4 separate regions of the Homo sapiens genome follow, and regions 2, 3 and 4 are each linked to region 1. Evidence: fine-mapped expression QTL. A gene starts in region 1. Each other region holds a variant in brackets. All regions are shown on one strand. Distances are from middle to middle. Region 1 holds the start of FHDC1 (FH2 domain containing 1). Region 2 has its middle 130 kb from the start of TRIM2. Region 3 has its middle 83 kb from the start of FHDC1. Region 4 overlaps FHDC1 (FH2 domain containing 1).

Evidence for each region. PIP is the estimated chance that this variant, and not a neighbour inherited with it, causes the effect. A credible set is the group of variants that fine-mapping cannot tell apart.
Region 2: its variant is the best candidate, but not a certain one, in a credible set for the expression of FHDC1 in tibial nerve (GTEx, PIP 0.86).
Region 3: its variant is the best candidate, but not a certain one, in a credible set for the expression of FHDC1 in cerebellum (GTEx, PIP 0.90).
Region 4: its variant is the best candidate, but not a certain one, in a credible set for the expression of FHDC1 in esophagus mucosa (GTEx, PIP 0.84).

Annotation. Positions count from the first base shown.
Region 1 is chr4:152,933,729-152,938,879 of GRCh38, forward strand. It overlaps FHDC1 (FH2 domain containing 1), which reads left to right and starts at 2,595. Exons shown (of 12, transcript NM_001371116.1): 1 at 2,595-2,681. LOC729870 (a long non-coding RNA gene) reads right to left here and starts at 3,109. Exons shown (of 2, transcript NR_136614.1): 1 at 2,921-3,109; 2 at 788-1,722. RefSeq lists silencers at 2,551-2,640, 3,973-4,232.
Region 2 is chr4:153,071,951-153,077,101 of GRCh38, forward strand. No RefSeq gene overlaps it. Among named protein-coding and RNA genes, the nearest start is that of TRIM2, 130 kb to the right of the region's middle. The variant T/C (reference allele first, on the strand shown) is at 3,161.
Region 3 is chr4:153,016,991-153,022,141 of GRCh38, forward strand. No RefSeq gene overlaps it. Among named protein-coding and RNA genes, the nearest start is that of FHDC1, 83 kb to the left of the region's middle. RefSeq lists an enhancer at 4,185-4,980. The variant G/T (reference allele first, on the strand shown) is at 2,674.
Region 4 is chr4:152,964,256-152,969,406 of GRCh38, forward strand. FHDC1 (FH2 domain containing 1) reads left to right here. Exons shown (of 12, transcript NM_001371116.1): 9 at 650-720; 10 at 3,725-3,842. Among named protein-coding and RNA genes, the nearest start is that of FHDC1, 31 kb to the left of the region's middle. The variant T/C (reference allele first, on the strand shown) is at 2,752.

The sequences.
Region 1 (5,151 bases):
CAAAAAAAAAAAAAAAAAAAAAAGTCAAAATAAGCATGACATATTCAGGGGCAGTACGTCCCACTGCTTGAGTGAAATGGGACGCATCCAATTGTGGGAGATAAACGTAGGATGCTGCCGGATTGTCAGACTGAAGAATGCTGCCTTCTTCCTGTAGGAGCACATGGGAATCTGCAGAAGGTTTTGAAGAGGTAGGTAGTGTGATGAAATCAGACTTTTAAAAACAGTGACCTGACAGCAGTTTTGGGATGGATTTAGGAAGAAGAGAGAAGCAGAAAGAACACCAAGGTAGTGGATGTAGGTATCCAATTTAACTTCTCTAAGCTAGGAAATCAGAATGCTTATAGGATCATGGTGAGAATTAAGTGTGGTGCCTGATATGTGGCCAACAGCAGATAAATACTTGTTCCCTCTTCCACTACTTGGGGTTACTGCAGTGATGGTGCATGTGAAAAATAAAACAGGTTACTTGGGAAAGAGCAGCAAATTTAGCAAATACTTGAATTTTAAAGAATTTAAGAGAGACAAGCAAAGGAAAAGCTAGGATTTCAAACAGAAAAACCAGGTCTTAGGTAAAGAGGGGGAGGTGGTGGGTGTGGGAAGAGTACTAGTTTTGAGGGAAAGATGAGTTGATTTTTGGATATTTTTATTTGGACTTGAAATTTTACAACGATAATATGGATTCAAGAGTCCCTGACATTGAAGAGAAACCCGGAGATATACCTTGAAGCTCAAATTTCCAAGCCCCTCATTTTCCCTGGGCCCTTCCAAGGATACATGTCTAGTATTATGTTTGTAAGTTTTTATTGCTTTCCTTTAAGAAGTTCCCCCAGGAGTTATACAAGCTTCAGGTCCCACGACATCTGGATGGGTTCAGTTTGAAATCAGAAGGTATTTCTTTGGGATACTGGGAGATCGAGAGTTGGAAAAACCTTGTTACTGTCCTCAAAGGAAGAGAAGGGTCAGCAGAGAAGTCCAGAGAAGCATAGAGAAGGCCTTAGGGTAGGATGCTGCCAAGGAGATCAAAGGGATGAGGGGCTGAGAATGGGTCACCAGACTTGACTTCTCAAAAAGTAACTGTTTTAGAGTGCATGCTCAATACAGTTGGGGGGAGGCCCACTGTCACGGGGTTGAGGAGGGAGGAGTAGGCAAGGGGTGTGGACTCCCCATTTAACAAGGTCGACAGTAAGAGAAAAGAAGATGCCACTCAACTCCTCACTTTCGATCTGCTGTAATTTAACTTGAGCCTGAACAGTCAATATTCCTTTGGGATTCATATTAGCTCCCTGAGCATGACATTGTCTTTCTCTTTATTACATTTTCTTATTCCTTAAGATTTTAAGATTTTCTTAATTGGATCCATTTCTCTTCATGCACCATCAATGGCCAAGAAATGGGCTATTGGCAGGCACAGTTTTGGTTTTGGGGTTGATTGGTTTGTTTACACTAATAGTTTCTCTTTCTCGATCCAAGGCTTGACCAAGGAGGTCAGGAATTCTGTCCTGGGAGTTCAGGGACTGAGGACCAGGATGGAGGAAGCAAAAGGCGTCAGGCATTAGGCTGGAAACGTCTTGGTCGGTTATCTAGGATCAAAGAGTCAAAGGTAGCGATGACTTCATCCCCGTAGAGGGCGCCTCCCTACCCCGACAGTGGATTTTCGGTCAGCCGGTTTGCCCGGGATGTTTTCTTTGACTACTTGCTTCTCACTGGCGCCCCAAGTCACTTTGAAGAAAAAAAAAATGTGATTAAATCGATTCCCCTGTTTCTTTCTGTGAGGAGTGTGCCTTTCCCAGACAGCGTGCGTTCATTCGATGAGGCCTGGCAAAATTTTTGAGGGGTCTTTTTACGCTTTAATACAACCTAAAGGTTTCTGTTACCATCATCATTGAGAATTAAAAACAAAAACAAAATAAAAAACGGTAACAAATTTACAGCTTGGCAGGCCCCAGGGAGGAGCTGACCTTTGCGAAGCTCTAGCGCAGCCAGGTTTCAGCTGTAGGGGTTGGGACAGGTCAGTTCGCCCAAGTGCTGCTAGCTCTCCAGGGAGAAGCAAGTGTTGGGGCAGAGGGTGGTCTGGCGCGTGCGTCGGGGGGCGTGTGCGGGTGTGTGTGTGTGTGTGCGCGCGTGTATATAAGAGTGTGTGCGCGCCCGTGTGCACAAGAGAGGGTGCCTGGGAGGCTGTCGCAAAGGCTCCTTTGTGAAAGGCACTTGCAGGTTCAGAAGCCAGCTTGGCGCCTCCTCTCGCCCGTTCCCCGAGGACACCTGGCTCTTCTGGGCAGCCCAGCTATCTCCGTCTCCTGCCGCCCCTACTTCTCTCGGTGGCCCCCGGCCTAGCCCCGCACCAGCCTTCGGGTGCGGGAAGCAGTGTGCCCCGAGGCGTCTCCCCCGGGGCCCCGCGCAGGTGAAGGTGAGCGCGTGGCGGTGACGGTGGCGCGCGTAGGGTGGAAGGGGAGGCGAGGGAGGGGCGGAGCAGGAAAGGGCGCGCTGCCCTTCCCGGCCGGCCAGGAGCAGCGAGGCCGCAGCTTTGTTACCTGAGGCTGCCGCTGCGCCCCGCCCCGCCCTGCCCCCTCGCGCTCAGGGTTGGCTGGGCCTGCAGTGACCGGGAGGAGGCGGCTACGCCGACACAACGGCGGGAGGCTGCAGCGGTCTGCGCGCCGGGAGCGGGGGCGCGCTGGCCGCGGGTGAGTGCGGGTCGGGCGGCCGAGGCGGGGGCGACCGCGGCGCGGGACACGGGGAGCTGGAGCCCCGCCGCTCGGGAGGGTCAGGGTTGGGGTGTTGTCCGGGACCCGAGGCTGAGGCGCCGAGAAGCGCGGCTGATGGGTGCCGGGTCTCGGCTTCCTCCGAGCCTCACCGGGAAAGCTGGAGAGGAGGTTCCAGTTCCCTCCACATCCACCCCGGTGACTTTGGCGGCCGCCCTTACCCGGCCACGGAGAACAGCGATCGGTCCCTGGAGGCGAGGACGCGCCGGTGTGGACCCGCGTCTGGAGAACGAGCTGCATCGCCAAGGCTGCTGCGGGTCGCACCTGGGCGGTTGACTATTAGTCGTGGCTAAGACTTTCAGATCAACCGCCCCCTAGTTTATCCCGACCCTTGGGAGACAGCGGCGTCCCGCACGGAATGCGCAGCCGCGGCGCCGCGCTCGGTTCCCTAGCCAGCCGGGGGCCACGCCTGGCCCCTGACACAGTGGTGGGGCGGTGGCGGGGACCTAGTGCGGTGGTGCGGACCGAGGACCAGGCGCTTCTCGCCCCGACAAACTTGCTCCGGCCGCGCGAAGTTCGGATTGCAAGTTGCGCCCCGCGCCTGCAGGAGTGTGGGGAGGGGGAGGAAGCGGGTGGGCTGGGGATCAGCCTCCAAACAAGGGGTGTCCCCAGCTCTTGGAGAGCGGGTTCTGACCGGTTTCAAACGCCAGGAGTCTCCCCTCTGTTTTTCTCAGCGGCTCGACCCGGCTCCCTTTTGGCAGAGCCGCAGTGCGGCCGTGAGGCTTTTCCCCCGCGCCTGCGACCTGGATGGGGGACGTGGGAAGATGTCGCGGCGGAGGCTCCGGGTGGGTTGGGAGCGCGCGGCCGCCGCAGACCCGGTGTCTGCGAGCCGGAAGACCCCCCCTTTCGTTTCATTCACACGGACACCTCCCCTAGTTAGCCGTCTCCCACCCAACTTCTGGGCGCAGCGTGCTAAACCCCCGCAGAGGGGCTGGCGCCCTGGGGGGCGTGGCGTGGGGAGCGTGGGCTTTCCAGCGTGGGCCCCTCGGGGAGGGGGGCGGGGCCGAGACCCCCTCCAACTGGAGGGGCCGGGAATGGGCGAGCGGGTGCGGCGGCCGACCCAGCAGCTGCAGCCGCCGGACGGGAGAGCGGTCGGCGCTGCGGAAGGCCGAGGGTCGTGCAACGCCCGCGCTGGGCGCCCGCCCCGCAGTCCCCGCCCCGCAGGCCGCGGCTTCTCTCCCCGCCGCAGAGCTGGCGCGGCGCGTGTGGGCGTCGATCTCAGCGCGCACCGGCGCCCCACCCTCGCGCCGCGACGCCCTTCTGCCCGGCGCTGATAAGGACGCAGCTGGGGCTCCGCGCGGCCCGTGGGCCGCCCACTCGCGTTCAGTTTGCTGACCCCAGCGCGGCTCCCCGGGGATTCGCGGCCCAGCCGGTGGCGGCTGAGCCGGTGGCTTGTTGGTGAGTGGCTCGGGCGGGGACCGGGGTGCCGGGTTGGGGATGTAAGGAGGCTGCGGACAGCTGTCTAACGCAGAGAGCTGGTGAACTACTACGTATCCAAACTTGAAAGAAGTGGTGTCCCAGGACCCCCCAGGCCGAATTTCTTCCGGACTTAATGGTCGGTTTTCAAACTTCCGTGTGGACAGAAACGACCTCCGGGATTCGGCCGTCTGTGACCCCCTTCAACTGACCCACAGTTGTCTTCCTGGAAGGAGCAGCCGGCGCTCCCTTCCCTCTCTCTAGAGCATCCTTTGGCACGCATGTGCTTTTTTTTTTTTTTTTCTTGGTTTTGGGACAGTGAGAGAAACTGAAAATGAACATTCAAATACAGGCGTTTTTCCTCTGCTCTCGGGTGTTGGTCTCGGGCGCCTATGAATATTTACATTGTGCTGCAGATTGAAGGCGCTTACTGGGAACGCGTTGTCCTGGGTTCTTTCACTACTGCCTGGAGCACAGGCAGACGGAACTCACAGAAGAGCTGGACGGTCCGGCTCTGGCCCGACTGCGTAATTGTACCGACTGACATTCTGTGTTTAATAATCAAGAAAGCTTTTGAAAGATAAGTGGTGGTGGAGGAGCCTTTTCCCGAATTAGTGGAGTGGGAGTAAAAATTCCATAGTTTAGAATTGTCCGTACTTTCCCCATCCTTTTCTTCTCTCCCAAATACAATAAAATAGGGCTGTGTGTTTCTCTACCTCTGCTCTCCAAACTCGGCTTGTTCTACCCTGGTTTGTCATCAGAAGCATGTGGGCCAGCCCTTCCTGCCCCCACCTCTTCTGTGGCACATGCCAGGAGTCAAGGAGAAAGGTTTTCTGGCAGGTTTTCCTTGATGTTCCTTTTGATTATTGTTGACCAAAGGAGTGAGTGACCAGCTGAGCACCAAGACCCTCATTCTGAGCACCAGAACCACTGGTGCAGAACCACTCATTCTGAGCACCAGGACCGCTGGTGCAGA
Region 2 (5,151 bases), 140 kb after region 1:
ATTTTCAATGCTTTATAATATTTCATTAAGCAAATTTATTATCATTTACTTATATAACAAATTATAAATATTGAAGGACATTTGTGTTGTTTCTTGTTTTTATTATGAATAGTACTCCTATAAAGTTTTTAACATGTCTTTTTATGTACACATGCATGCATTTCTGTTGACTATATACCTAGGAGTAGAATGTCTGAGTCACAGGTATGCATATGTTCAGCTTTAGCAGATGCTGCCAAACAGTTTTCCAAAGTTGTACCAGTTTGCATACCCACCAACAGAGTATGAGACTTCTAGTTGTTCCACATCCTCACCAATACTTAATTGTTTACTATTGGCCATTCTGGCAAGTTAAAAAATGGTATTTAATTGTGGTTGACATTTGCATTTTCTTGATGAATAATTAGACTGACTACCTTTTCAGATGCATATTGGCCATCTGGATAATCTCTTGTGATGTACATGCTAAGTCTCTTGCCCATTTTTTAAATACTTTCCTTTCCTGTTTTTTTTTTTTTCTCTCAGTAACTTAAAGGACTTCTTTATTCACTCTGAATGAGTCCTTTGTTAGAAATATATATTGCATATCTCTTCTTTCAGTTTGTGGCTTGCTTCCCTTTTCACTATCTTAAAATGGTATCTATTGATGAACAGAAATTCTTTATTTTAAATAGTCTAATTTATAAACGTTTTCTCTTCTGGTTGGTGATTTTCATGTCCTGGTAAGAAATCTTTGCATACCTTACTATCATAAAGATATCTCCTGTGTTATCTTTTAAATTGTAATTGTTTCACTTTTCACATTTTAGATCTACTATCCAGCTGGATTTTTTTTTAATGATGTGAGATAGATTAAGATGAGGTTTTTTCCATTCTCATATCTATTGGCCCAGAACCACTCATTAAGCAGACTGTCCTTTCCCTTCTGTACAATACCATCTTTGTTATAAATCAAGTGTTGGTCTAGTTTTTGTACTCTATTCTGTTCCATTGATCTACTTGTCTCTCTTTCTGCCAATACCACAGTGACTGAATTATCCAGCATTCTTATTACTTGTGTTATCTAGTGTAAGTGTTTCAGTGATGTTCTTCAAGATTGTCCTAAACACTCTTGGTCCTTTGTATTCCACATGCAAACAAAACAAAATAAGCCTGCCAAGATATCTTTGAGGTTTACATTGAATCTATGGATGAATTTGAAGGGAAATTGACATTTTTACACTATGTGTTCCAATCCACAAGTATTATTTAGATTTATTTAGATTTTCTTAGATTTATTTAGATTTTCTTTAATGTCAGAAAATGTTTATAGTTTATGTATAGAGATCTTTTACTTATTTGTTGAATTTATTCCTAAATGTTTGATTCTATTAATGCTATTGTAAATGGCATCAAGTTTTAAAATTAGCTTTCTAATTATTTGTTGTGGATATTTTGAAATATAATTGATTTTTATGTATTGACTTTATAGCCAGCAAATTTATTGAATTTATTAATTCTAATAGCTCATCTGTAGATTTTATTGGACTTCTGAAAATAAAAATGGTGGTTTTATTTCTTCTTTCCCAATCCTTTTACATTTTTTTTCTTGCCTTCTTGCACTGGCTAAGGCCTCTGAAATGATGCTGAATAAAAGTGGTAATGGGGGCATCTCTGTGTCATTACCAATCTCAGGGAAAGGATTTTAATATTGGATGATTAAATATGATGTTTGCTATAGATTTTCTTGTAGATATCTTTTATCAGATTAAGCAAGTTCTCTTCTATTTTGTCATCAATGTATATTGAATTTAATCAAATGCTTTTTCTGCATCTATTATGTATTAGTCTGTTCTCACACTGCTAATAAAGACATACTGAGACTGGGTAATTTATAAAGGAAAGAGGTTTAATTGACTCACAGTTCCACATGGCTGGGAAGGCCTCAAAATCATGGTAGAAGATGAAGGAAGAGCAAAGGGACTTCTACCATGGTGGCAGGCAAGAGGGAATGAGAGCCAAGATAAAATTATCAGATTTTGTGAGACTTATTCACTACCATGAGAACAGTATTAGGGAAACCACCTTTATGATTCAGTTATCTCCCACTGGGTCCCTCCCACAACACATGGGAATTATGGGAGCTACAGTTCAAGATGAGATTTGGGTGGGGATACAGCCAAACCATAGCATATTAAGATTATTATATGATAGTTCTCTCTTTCAATGTAGATATTCTCCAAGTCCCTGTTCTGAGCCTTCTCCTTTTCTTCTTTCCCTACTCTTCTCCCATTAGTTACCACATTCAATTCACAACTTATATTATTACCTTAAGGAAGGTAACACCACAAAATTTATTTGCAATTGAATTTTCACTCTTCACTCATAATTCCAGCTACCCCCTGGATACCTATTCCTGGATGTCCTGCCAACATCTCAAACTCAAAATGTCCAAAAGTGAGTTACTTTCTCCCCAAATCTGCTACTTTTCCTTACTATTCTTTCTCTGTTAAAGATATCAAGAAGCTCCTAGTAACTTGGGCCTAAAAAGTCATAGTCATCATTGACTCCTTTTCTTGTTCCACCATCCAACAAATCAGACATTATATTCTGTTAATCTCTAGATATTTGTTACATGTTTACATGTTCCCCTTCTTTTCGTCATTATCACTCTTAAGTTATTGCTTTTACAGTAACAAGGTGCTTTAGTTCCTGTTTCTCTATCTTCTAATCTATTTGGCTTGCTGCCACCAGACTAATGTTGTTTAATATCTGTTGAATGAATAAAGCATAGTTTTAATCATGTTACCTGCTGGTTACCTCCCTCTTGTTGACTACATAAAATTCAGACTTCTTAGCTTAGTTCCAAGCCCTTTGAATCTGGTTCTAGACTCTATCTGTACTTCTTCAGCTTTAAACCTTTCATACACCCTATATTTTGGTTGAATACAAATCATTTTCCAAGTTGTGTTCTGCCATACAATAGAGCCCTTCAGGAGGCTAATACTATTTCTTGAATAAAAATGTTCTGTGGTAATTAAATTTAACCAAAGTCAGACAGCTTTCTTGCACAATCTCTCAAAGCCTTTACTATTCTAATGTACATTGTGAGCCTCCAATTGAGGGGAAAAGTATGTGGTATTTCTCAATGCTATTTGACCATGAATCCTGTTTAAGGGAC[T/C]ATCACTTATCTCACAAGACACTAATGTTCCAAGAAATACATTTTCAAACAGGCTGATACAGATGCCTCTTTATTCCCCAAACATACTCTCTTTCTCACATCATCCTCTTAGATTAGAACAGTGGTTCTTAACCAAGGTTGCCCTCCAAGGGAAATTCAGCAATGTCTGGAGACATTTTTGGTTGTCACAGCTGGGAGCTGTATCTAGCAAGTAGGGGCCAGAGATGCTGCTAAACATTCTACAATGCACAGGACAGCCCCCGCCCCCAGCAAAGAATTATCCACCCAAAATATCAATAGTGCCAAGGTGGGGAAACTCTGAGCTAGACAATCCTCTTCTCACTTCCTCTCCCTGCCAGTCAAAGCTGTATCCATTTCTTAAAGTCCAGATCAAATATTTTCTTTTCAGTTAATGCTTGATTTTACCACTTAGATTTTTCTCCTTCTAATCTTCTACAGGACGGTATATGTTGCCTTTATTGCATTTATCTAATTCTTTCCTATATTATACATATTAATGTATATTTATAACATCTCATACTTGACTGTAATGTTCTGAGTAGCGGGACAATGTTACAGTCGTTTGTTCTCTCTTCAAAGAGCTGACAATGGTAGTAACAGTAAGTTCTTGCTTAAAGAATAAAATGAAGCTTTATTTAACTCTTCTTTTTTAGTCTCCTCCCAAATGTAATTGCTCACCCGGTCTTGTCAGTTTTTCCTTCATGTTTTCCTCACATCTTTCTTAATCTTTCCACATCTCGTGCAGGCGTCCTGGCTTCATGCCCCACTATAGCAACAGGGAGGGAAAATGGTGTGTTGGAGAGAGCCTCATCTTGCATCTGATAAGCCTCCATTTGATGCCCCCCACCCCCTTGCCTTCCCTGGGAACTGCAGTTCTTCAAGCCATGGTGAAAGTGATTGTATCTGCCTTGCAGGGTTCTGTAAGGATTAGAGTGAACACAATGGGTGTTCAATAATGGGCTCTAATAGTCAATAGCCTGAAGGGCTCTTCCTACCTCAGCTCTAAAACTTTCTCAGATCCTCCATCACCCACACAGGCCAAGCTGCTGGAATTCAGGGCTCTAGGCCACTGTGACCAACTTACTCAAAGAAATTTACCCCTAATTCTCCTTTCCAAACCCTCAAACTCTTGATGAGCCGGTCCTTTCAGTATAGTATTCAAAGAGGCCTGAGCATTCTCATCTCCATATTCTGATTCATGGGTTCTTCCCTCTTGGAAACTCCCGTCTTCTGTCACAAATCCTGCTCAAATCCCATCCAGCCTTACCTCTTGGTTCAGTAAAGTCTCCTCAGACCACTCAGCCTACAGGGATCCTTTCCTTTTCTGGACATTTGGAGTCCTTATAGTCTGTTTCACTAACAGGCAATCAATTTCTATTACTTGATGATGTTTCTCACCTGGAGAACTATGCAAATACACCTTCTAGGACTGTCTAAACTTTTGTGCTTTCTCACTTTAGATGGTAAGCTGCTTGAGGACAATGACCATGTCTAATTCTTCTTCACCAAAGTTACCTTGCATATGCTAGAGGCTCCAGAAATATTCAGTCCAAATATTCTGTCTTCTTTCACCTTCGAGTGTGTCTTTAAATGCCCTTTTCATTTTAGGCCTCATGCGCACCTTTGGAGGGTTCCTCAGGCACAGGCAGGAATGAAGGTGATAGCAAGGCCCTGGGTTTCACTTGGGTTAGATGGGAGTGCGGAAAGAGAGGTGCCACACACCAGGATCTGAGAGAATTCTTATAAGCAGAGAATAATGGCAATCAGACACTAACATTTTAATTAACAATTTTAATGGCTTATCCAAAATAATCCTTCTGATTTGGAAGGATTAAATTCCACTTGACAGAACTACCAATCCATGTGGAAAGAAGTCTCACGTGCTGCTCTTGTAGTTACAGCAGGGCCTGGTGGGGCAGAAGGAGTTGTCCAGCAAAGTGCACAGCTGGTGGGAGCTGCTATCCCCAGGC
Region 3 (5,151 bases), 83 kb after region 1:
GTGAGAGAAATAAGCCTCTAACTTAGTTAAGCCGCTTTGGTTAGTTGTTGTTAATAACAATACATCTCAGTGTCTAATTGGGATAATTTCAAAACTTTATTCCCTATCTTTCTTTATTGACGTTTGGCATGAGTTTTCTTTACCTATGGCTTTCAGTTCAAATGTCACTTCTTCAGCGCTACCTTCTTTTACCAACCACCGTATCTAAAGTTGCCACGCACGTTATTACATGCTCTGTCATGCTGTCCTGGCTGATGTTCTTTATTGTGCCTTTCATACCAGCAAACACCAGCAATTAATCCCTCCCTCCCTCCCTCCCTTCCTCCTTCCTTCCCATCCTCTTCCTTCCTTCCTTCCTTCCTTTTCTCTCCTTCCTTCTTTCCTTCCCTCTCCTTCTTTGTTCTCTGTTTTCCTTGCTGTAGACTGTAAGTTCTATGAAGGCAGGGACCCTGCCTGGTTTGCACCATGCCCGTTCCTGGGAGAGAGCTTTGCACGTGGCAGGTGCTGGATAAGTATGTGTGAATGGATGAGCCTGTGTGAGAACCAAAATGGGACACTGGGAGTAGGTGGTGCTGTTGAAAAATTTCCTTAGGGGAAATCCAAGAAGCCCGAGTGGAAAACCTGTCAGTGCAAGTGGTTAAGAGTCCAGGGTACTAAGGAGGAGGATGATGTAGACTTTCCTTAATCCTTCTCCTCCAGAGCGTAGAGCACAGCCACTCAGGGCCCCATTGCCTAAGCACAACATGAATTCACACTCATTGCTTGCACCCACTATTGCTCTTGGGGTCTGGAGTGGAGGCATCTTTTGGACTCTGGTAGCACAGATGACTAGTTAACTACCAATACCTTAGTGACAGAGTCCCCCACTGGACGATTATATCTCTTTGCCTTCCTTGCCTCTTGTTGGCCTCTACCAGCTGGCTGTGCTGTATGATCTCGAATTCCTAAAGCTTCCATGTCAGGATCTAGCTTGGTCCCATGGAGAAATAACCACCCTGAGACTAGGGAAGGAGGGTTGTTAACTAACTGAGCCCCCAACATCCCTAGTGGCACAGGCCTTTTTCTCCCTGGAAGATATTTGACAGAAATGGCTCTGGTTTCTCCGTCTCATTTCTGGGTTAAATCCCACTAGTCTCAGTTGCCCAGCCCAGGTCTTACTCTGTATTAGTCCATTTTCACACTGCTATAAAGAACTACCTGAGACTGAGTCATTTATAAAGGAAAGAGGTTTAGTTGACTCACAGTTCCACATGGCTGGAGAGGTCTCAGGAAATTTACAATCATGGCGGAAGCCAAAAGGGAAGCAAGACACATCTTACATGGCAGTAGGAGGTAGGGGGGAGGTACTACACTTTTAAAACCATCAGATCTCATGAGAACTTACTATCAGGAGAACACCACGGGGGAAACCGCCCCCATGATCCAATCACCTCCCACCAGGTCCTCCCTTGACACGTGAAGATTACAATTCTAGGTGAGATTTGGGTGGGGATGCAGAGCCAAACAGGATCACACTCCTTCATGGAGCCTTGCCCAGTTTCTTTGGTTCACCTGGGTTTTTTCTGTTCTGATCGCCATGCCTCTCATTTCGATGTCATTTGTTCATTTACTCTTTTATTCATTTAACTAAAAGGGCCTCCTCTGTGCGGGGCACTATGCCAGTCACTGGGGGTTAGAATGAGAGCAAACATAGACATGGTCCCTATTGATCACATATCAATTATCTAGCAGATGTTTCCAGTTTGCAGTGCTTTGGCAGTCACCAAGTAGAATAAATGCAAGGCCACAGTTAGGTGACATACACAAAGCAGACAACACTAAACAGCTTTCAGCCACCATACTGCAAGCACTCATCTCATGCCAGCTTGGTGACAGCTGCAAAAAAAGCTTTCCCATGGGCCACAACCTGTTTCATGCTTTTAAGGCGGCAGACTGTGCATATCTGTGAGCTGCTGTTTTGTGGGTCTCCTGGGGCTGGAGCTGAGAGCAGGACTGTCAGGAGGTTGCTGTGGGCAGTGGACTCTGAAGGGCAGCCCTGCTTTCTGAAAGATGGCTGCTGAGCACAAGTGTGGGAGAAGGAGAACTGTCACCCTACAGAAAAGTGAGACTTAAGGTCTGGGGGACTAAAAGGCAGAGGGGACGGAGGTTTTGATTCTTTGAGTGAAAGCCCATGAGCCCACAGCAGGGTGGCACAAAAGCCAACTAAAGAGTCACAGAAGAGCCTTAAATGGCACCATCCAAGGGGCAGAGAGGCTGTCCTTCTTCTTCTCCTGCGTGTGGGTGGGGGTGGGGCTGGGTCACACAGAGCCTGCCTTTCCCTGCTTGGCAAGCTCAAACATGCTCTTAACACAACTGGTCAACCAGTGCGCTCTGTTCCATGACCTCAAATACAAATGCAATCAACTCTCCATTTTAACCTTGCTTTTTAATCTAGAATCCAAACGACCCCAAAGCCTGTTGTTCCTATCATCGACTGGTGTGACTAAGAGGCAGCTTCTATGTTATATCACAGGGCCAGCAGGATGTAGCCAGTCCCCCACATGGCTCACAAGTGCAGCACTGTATCCATGGGTAATTTACACGCAGGGCGATGTCCCTGGGCCCCTGCTGGATTCTGAGGTGTCGACAAACCAGCACGGGTGGGCCGTGTTCTGGAGCACTTTAACCTTGGGT[G/T]TATTTCACTGGAACTTGATTCTCTGAAAATGGCACGGCGTCTCTGGCACCCAGTTAATTAGAATGTTGAAGCAACCAGACCAGCCCATGGTTGACCTTGCTGGGCCGGCTGTGTTTACTGAATGCATGTGGAGCACCCACTTTGTTATGATCTGTCTGTTTTTAATACCATCTGGCTTCTCCCTGCCACCCAGAACACTTTGGGCTTCTCCCACCCCTGTGCTGCAGGCTGCTCAGGGAACGTAAATTCATTTTTGAGATTAAGCAAAACATAATTAAGAGGGCAAATCTCTTAGAGGAAATAAAACCATAAACAGTGATGCAGACCAGCCAAAATTACCTGCTGCTTTAACCACCTGTTTATCCGCCCTTTCACTGAGCGTGGTGAGTATTTTGGAGTTGACCTTCATGGCTCTGTGGCTCCGGAAGCTTCGACACGTGGTTTTGTTGGCAGATCTTCATTCCTGGTGTTTCACCAGGCTGTGAACTCTCAATTGCTGGGGACCAGAGCTTCAGTGGACCTCACTCCAGCACATGCTCCACCCACACGCATGGGCCTGCCTTCACCGGGATGCGTAAGGCTTCCAAGGGAAATCACCAAGGTTCCTTGGGATCAGCAATGTGATGCTGCGAGTCTGTGGGAGTAAAGATGAAGCAGCAGCGCCGGCTGGCAGGGTGTCTGCTGAGATTCTGTGTCCTCCAGGTGGCCCCAGGAAGGGATGGAAGCTGTCCTCACCCAGAGAGCCTAGTGGAACAGCCACTGGTGACCTCCCAACCCTGTCTCCAGAATGATCCCCCAGCTTCTACCGCTTCACTACTGCCCCACTCCCCTCCTTCCCCACTCTCCTCCTGCACCTGTTATGGTTTGAATTGTGTGCTCCATCCCCAAACTAGAGATATGTTGAAATAGAGAAGCTCTTACCCCAATTCCTCAGAATGTGACCTCATTTGGAAAGAGGGTTGTTGCCGATGTGGTCAGTTAGATGGAGTCATACTGGAGTAGGGGGAGCCCCTAATCCTAGATGACTGGTGTCCTTATATGTACACAGCCACGTGAACACAGACACACAGGGAGAACATGGCGGGAGGACGAAGGCAAAGACTGGAGTGACGAGGCTGCAAGCCTAGAAACCCCAAAGACTGCCAGCAAGCCCGCAGAAGCTAGGAAGAGTCAAGGAAGGACTCCCCTGTGGCTTTCAGAGGCGGCATGGCCCTGCCAGCACCTTGACCTAAGTCTCGAAGCCTCTGGAACTGTGGGAAAATATATTTCCTCTGTTTTAATCCATCCGATTTGCAGTACTGTGGCACAGCAGCTAATAGGCAGGAAACCAACACACCCTCCTAGCTCATTAGGTTGCCCCAGAGGTTAGTTTATTGTGAAGCTTGTGAAGTGTAAGATTCGGATCCTTCCTTGTGCAGGCTCCTTCCAAAGCCCTGTACTTCATTTTGTGTTTGCAATTTTGTATGCTTTCTCTTAAAAAATGCTCCCCCCAACTGGGTAAGATTTGGACTCCCCAAAACCCGGATCTGGATCCACAGTCCTTGCCCTGCTTGAGCTCCAGCCCAGGCCCCTCTGCCAGGGCACAGCAGAGCCAGAGCAGGGCTCTGGGAAGCCCCCTCAGGGCAGACCCACACGTTCCGCTTGGGTTCTGCGGCATCCCTGCTCTGTGGACAGTATCACCATCAGGAGGCCATGGGAAGAGAGCTCAGTGTTAGGTTGCTTTATCCATTTGTCAGGGAAAAGACTGAATTAGAAACCTTCCGGGGTCTCTTCCAGCCAAGTGCCTTGGGGATAACTGCATAGACTCACATTCTTTCAGAGTCCCAGTGAGAAGCTAAAGTTCCAGCCGGCAGCCTCTGTTTGAATAGAGCCAAAGAGCCTGATGTGATGAGAGCCAGAGCCCCGGGGAGGCCTGTCGTGGCTGCAGCGTGGCCACCCTTAGCCCAAGCTGCTCTGCTTCATGGCTTCCCCACTTCCAACCAGCACTCATCTTCATTCCCTACATTCAGATGGGCAGAGATGGCAGAAATGCCTGCTCACCACCGCCATGTGCACACACGCACACACGGACACGTCGCTTGTCCCAGTGGGGCTTCGTTCTCATCCTGCTTTCCCACCTCCAGGCCACTCCTAATTCAAACCAGTATCTCAAACACTTATGTGGCATTTAGTCTGTGCTAGGTGCTGTGGCGAACGGCACAAGGGTCCTGGGAACAGTGCATTCTCTAAAGAGGGAGACAGATGTGAAAGTAAATAGCCACACCGCATATAAATAACATGAAAGGATGTGGTGAAGGCCCAGTGTGTAAGCAACATGCTATCTGACTTCTTGAGGAGCAATGAATTCGGATTTGGGTGGGGAGTGGGGAGGCTTTATGAAGGAGGCACTGCTAAAAATCATGTGATAGATTGACAGGCCTGACCCATCAGGGACGAGCAAAGTTCCTGGAGGGCCCTGATAGGAATCCTCAGCAGCT
Region 4 (5,151 bases), 31 kb after region 1:
ACAAAGGGCCATGTTTAGCTTGGGACTTAATTGAAAGGTTAATTTTCAGGCATTAAAAGAAGAAAATGTGTTCCTTGCCCAGCAAGGGTCGTGGATAGTATTCGGGCAAAGCTCTCCTGAATCCAAGTGTCCAGGCCCTCTGGGTAACTTGGTCTCTGTCCATGTGGCGAAGCCTCCTGGGTCAGTCATTGCTTCCTTCCCACTTGCCTTCCTCTCACCTCCTGAACAGGTGAAGAATCCAAACACTGCCATGGCTCCTGTACCTTCTGATTAAACTCTGTTTGCAAACTGGTTTAACAGCTGAAGGTATCTCGCTCATTTAAAGGCATGCTCACAGGTATGGGTGGTATTTAAGCAGGATATATTGGATTCTTTCAGAAACAAGGGGCCCTGCTGAGCTGCAGCCAAATGCTCATTAATTGTATTTTGTGTCAAGATCAATTGCTCTGGAAAGGTAAATGTATCTTGAGAGTAGGAGAGTTCTAGCAAATCTTACTAAGAGTATCAGAGTTCATGTCTCAGTGAAATGCTTTGAATGTGTCAAGTTTAAAAACAGGAGCAGTGATTTTAAGATTCCTTTAAGCCCTAAGAAAATTATTTCCTTCCAGTTTTATCAACATAGTGAGATAAAATTCTGTTTTTGTTCCAGGAAGCCCAAAAGAAAGATACCATTCTTCTAAACTTTTCAGAAAAATTGCATCATGTTCAGAAGACTGCTAGGTGAGCAAGTGAATTGTGAGAATTCAAGATTCTTTACCTTTTTATGAAAACTGATAAATAGTTAAAACTTTTAGATTCCAGTTTGAAGTCTAAAAGGTTTTGTTTCATTGAACTTTCAGACTGTCCTTCATTTGCTTAACACAGGTGTGTGTGCACCTTTGGAATTTGGGGGTTTTGAAAAATTAATCTTTATTTGTAAACTAAAGAAACTATTTCAGTCTATTCTAATGAATATCATCAGTATAAAAAATATGGATTAATAATTTCAAATCCCTCCACGCCCAAGAGATAGAGCTTAAACAGCACCACCTATTTCCTTGGGAGTTGGTATATATCAATCAAACTTTCATGGCCACATTTCACTGTTTCCTTGTAGAATCTAACATGGTACATTTATTTTCCTTTGCATTAAAAGAGTTTGTAACCGTACCAAGAGCTGTGAAATGATTTTACTTTAAATTAGTCACTCACAGAGAAAGGCACATACAGAGAAAGTATCTGCCAAACATAAGGCTCTAATTACATCACTCTAATTTGCTTCTGATCCTAATGTAGATATGTATCTTAATGTAGCTAGACTCTGTGTGTATATACTATTTTGACTTTTGTATATGTGTTTTAAAATTTATATTACATCCACACATCCCACGGTAAATGTTCAATAACCAGCTGTTGGAGAAAAAAGTCCTGATTTGTAGCATTTGCTGATTTCCGTGTTGTAAATACCGTAACCATGGCTGATGTCAAGCTGCTGACATACATTACTGAATGCAAATTAGGAAGAGACACCCACAGTTGGTTCTCATGAGCAGGTTCAGCCACCGCTCATGTGTCAAGCCAGTTCCTAGCATATACTTACTGAGTGTATCCAACTATGACATCTGTGAACCATATGCATATAAATAAATGAACCATAGCTCACAGCCCTGCCACTGGCCTGTACCTCAAAAGTTACTGATTCTATGAATATCTAGCCACAGATTACATGTCTTTCCCAAAGTGGGATTATCAGTTCAGAGGTGTAAACAGTTTATAATTCATGTTTACAGATCTCTAGATTGTTCTCTAAAAAGAATGGACATCTTATAAGATAGGAACTTTTGACTTACTGAAAGAAATTTGTGTGGGAACATTTTTACTGTAATTAGTATAAAAATATTCCTAAGAGATATATAGATAGAAATTAGCATTATATTTTTGAAATGGCGTTTCTGGTCAGAGCTGGATTGGAGCTAGATATTGTCTTAGAAAAATCCTATTCAGCAAGCTTGTTTATTTGAAATGGAAGGTGAAATACACTTGGGAAATACAAACAGGTCTCAGATATGTGCCGGTGACCAGTGAAGGTGGAAAACTTTATTGCACAAAGAAACATTTGAATTGACAATGGAAGCATGAATGCATCCTAATTTATGAATTTCACATGCATTTTAGGTTTCGCCTACTCAGTTTTCTGGGTAACAAAACCATCATTCACATTCTGCCTATCTTTTGTTTTTTTTGAGATAGAGCCTCGCTGTGTCACCCAGGCTGGAGTTCAGTGGTGCAATCTTGGCTCATTGTAATCTCTGCCTCCTGGGTTCAAGTGATTCTCCTGCATCGGCCTCCCAAGTAGCTGGGACTACAGGCACCCGCCACCATGCCCAGTTAATTTTTTTGTATTTTTAGTAGAGACAGGGTTTCACCATACTGGCCAGGCTGGTCTCGAACTTCTGACCTTAGGTGATCTGCCCGCCCCACCCTCTCAAAGTGCTGGGATTACAGGCCTGAGCTACCATGCCAGGCCCACATTCTGCCTATCTTGATTTGATGTATATAACAAAAGCATTGCAATCAATCCAACTGTTAATTTGCAGAATTAGGGCTGGCTGTGGTGGCTCATGCCTGTGATCCCAGCACTTTGGGAGGCCAAGGCAGGAAGACTGCTTGAGACCAGTAGTTTGAGACCAGTCTGGGCAACATAGTAAGACCCTGTCTCTACAAAAAATTTAAAAATTAGCTGGGTGTGGTGGCGCACACCTGTGATCCCAA[T/C]TACTTGGAAGGCTGTGGTGAGAGGATCACCTGAGCCCAGGAGGTCAGTGCTGCAGTGAGCCATGATCTTGCCACTGCTCTTCAGCTTGGGCAACAGAGTGAGACTGTCTCTTTAAATAATAATAATAATAAAAATCAGCTGGGCCTGGTGGCTCACACCTGTAATCCTAGCACTTTGGGAGGCTGAGGTGGGCAGATCATTTGAGCTCAGGGGTTCTAGACCAGCCTGGCCAACATGGCGAAACCCCGTCTCCACTAAAAATACAAAAATTAAGCTGGGCATGATGGCACATGCCTATAATCCCAACTACTCTGGAGGCTGAGGCATGAGAATTGCTTGAACCCAGGAGGCAGAGGTTGCAGTGAGCCAAGATCAGGCCACTGCAATCCAGCCTGAGTGACAGAGGGAGATTGTGTCTCAAAAAAAAAAAAGTTGCACATTTGTTAGCTATGTTTTAGTTCTCTGTAAAATATAGAAAGCCTGCTCTGGCCACCTGTGGAATCTGCTATTTTCATGGAATCTGCTATTTTCTCACTGTTACCCTTAGTGTTAGAATTATCAACATATATTGCCTTGCTTCTTGTGGGTTAGAGTTTCCTATTTGTGTTTAGTGGCCCATGGAAAGCATATGAATCCCGGAAGCCGCTGGCATTTAGTTTGTAATGCTTATTGCATAAAGGTGTTCAGAGCTAGTTTATGAAAACGTTTGCAGATCCCATGGTTTTGTTTATCTTACCATCAAGAGTACAGTTACAACCTGCTCTCTTTGAACCAGTATATGTCTTTAGAAACGAATCACTTCTTAAAACAGGAGGAAACACAAAAGATCTAAATACAGGGGTAGATAAATATCATCACAGTAGCTCTCCCCTTCTGTTTCCAAGGTTGAACAACAGTTAGTCTTATTTAATATACCTACATGACACATGGCTTCCTTGTTCCAACTGCCCACTCTCCCCTTTCTTCTTTTAGATTATCTCTGGAGAACACGGAGGCAGAACTGCACTTGCTGTTTGTCAGGACAAAATCACTAAAAGAAAACATCCAGCGGGATGGTGAACTTTGTCAGCAGATGGAAGATTTTCTTCAGGTTTGTAGGTGACTCAAGTCAGTCCCTCTAATCTCATCTCCCAGCAGCACCCCGGGGCTGGTTAAATTTGCATGGGTGTATTTGTGGAAGCAGCAGTTCCCATTCATATTTTTTTTCTCCAAGTTAGTCAGAGGAACTTGGTATTTCCATGCCCATTCTTTGCAGAGGATGTTAAATGTGATCTAAGCCTGATATATTTTTTTTTTTTGTCTCTTCGTTTGTTTGACTTGTTTGTTTGTTTGTCTTGAGAGGGAGTCTTGCTCTGTCACCCAGGCTGGAGTATAATGGTGCGATCTCGGCAAACTGCAACCTCCGCCTCCCTAGTTCAAGCAATTCTCCTGCCTCAGCCTCCCGAGTAGCTGGGGGCTACAGGCATGCACCACCACACCTGGCTAATTTTTGTATTTTTTCAGTAGAGACGCGGTTTTGCCATGTTGGCCAGGCTGCTCTCAAACTCCCGACCTCAGGTGATCCGCACTCACTGGGCCTCCCAAAGTGCTGGGATTACAGGTGTGAGCCACCGCGCCCAGCCCAAGCCTGATGTATTTGTTTAGGGACAGTGCTTCTGCGAGGCTCCTGTTGTTCACTGCTCAGTTTGCACGATTGCAGTTTACTGTGGTGAACTGGTATCAGCCATGGAGTTGCACTTGGGCTATACCTGGCAACTCAAGTTTTGTTTCTAAACCAGTTAAACTTTCGGATAACAGAACAAAGTTCCACAGAAATCAAGATGCCTTAGAACTTGGGCTGTCATTTCTTCACTTGTTTATGTTGAAGAAACAAGCTGCGTTTTGGCATGTTTTATAATGAGAGCAGCAGAACACATGAGAGCTGTGCCCGTCAACACCAGGAGTACGCAGGGCCCACAGGGTGTGTCGGGAGCTGCTCCAAATAACATCAACAAAAAACAGCAGAGTGGACATGTTTGTGACAGCTCACTGTGACTCACTAATCGCATAGTCTGACATACTTCTTTTATCTTCCTTATTAAAAAAAAAAAAAAAGGCACCATCTCATGCTTTTAGTCTTCAGCGAAAGGCTATGCTACCTGAAGTGTTGTTAGTGTTTTGAGACCTGTGAGGTGGAATCATGTAGCAGGGCTGCCCTTGGCACTGGGGAGGAACAGTGTGCTCCTGAGGTTGTGCCAGCTGAAGCCTTCGCTTCTTAATTCAGCTCCTTCAAAATATTATGGCCTTCGGCGGATGCTTGATTTTGTTTGGCTCTGCTGTGAGTTTATTTTTATTATTAAACATGTGCTCTGTATTTTCCTTCAAGTAAAACCAAACTAATTTTCTTGTTACAAACACCA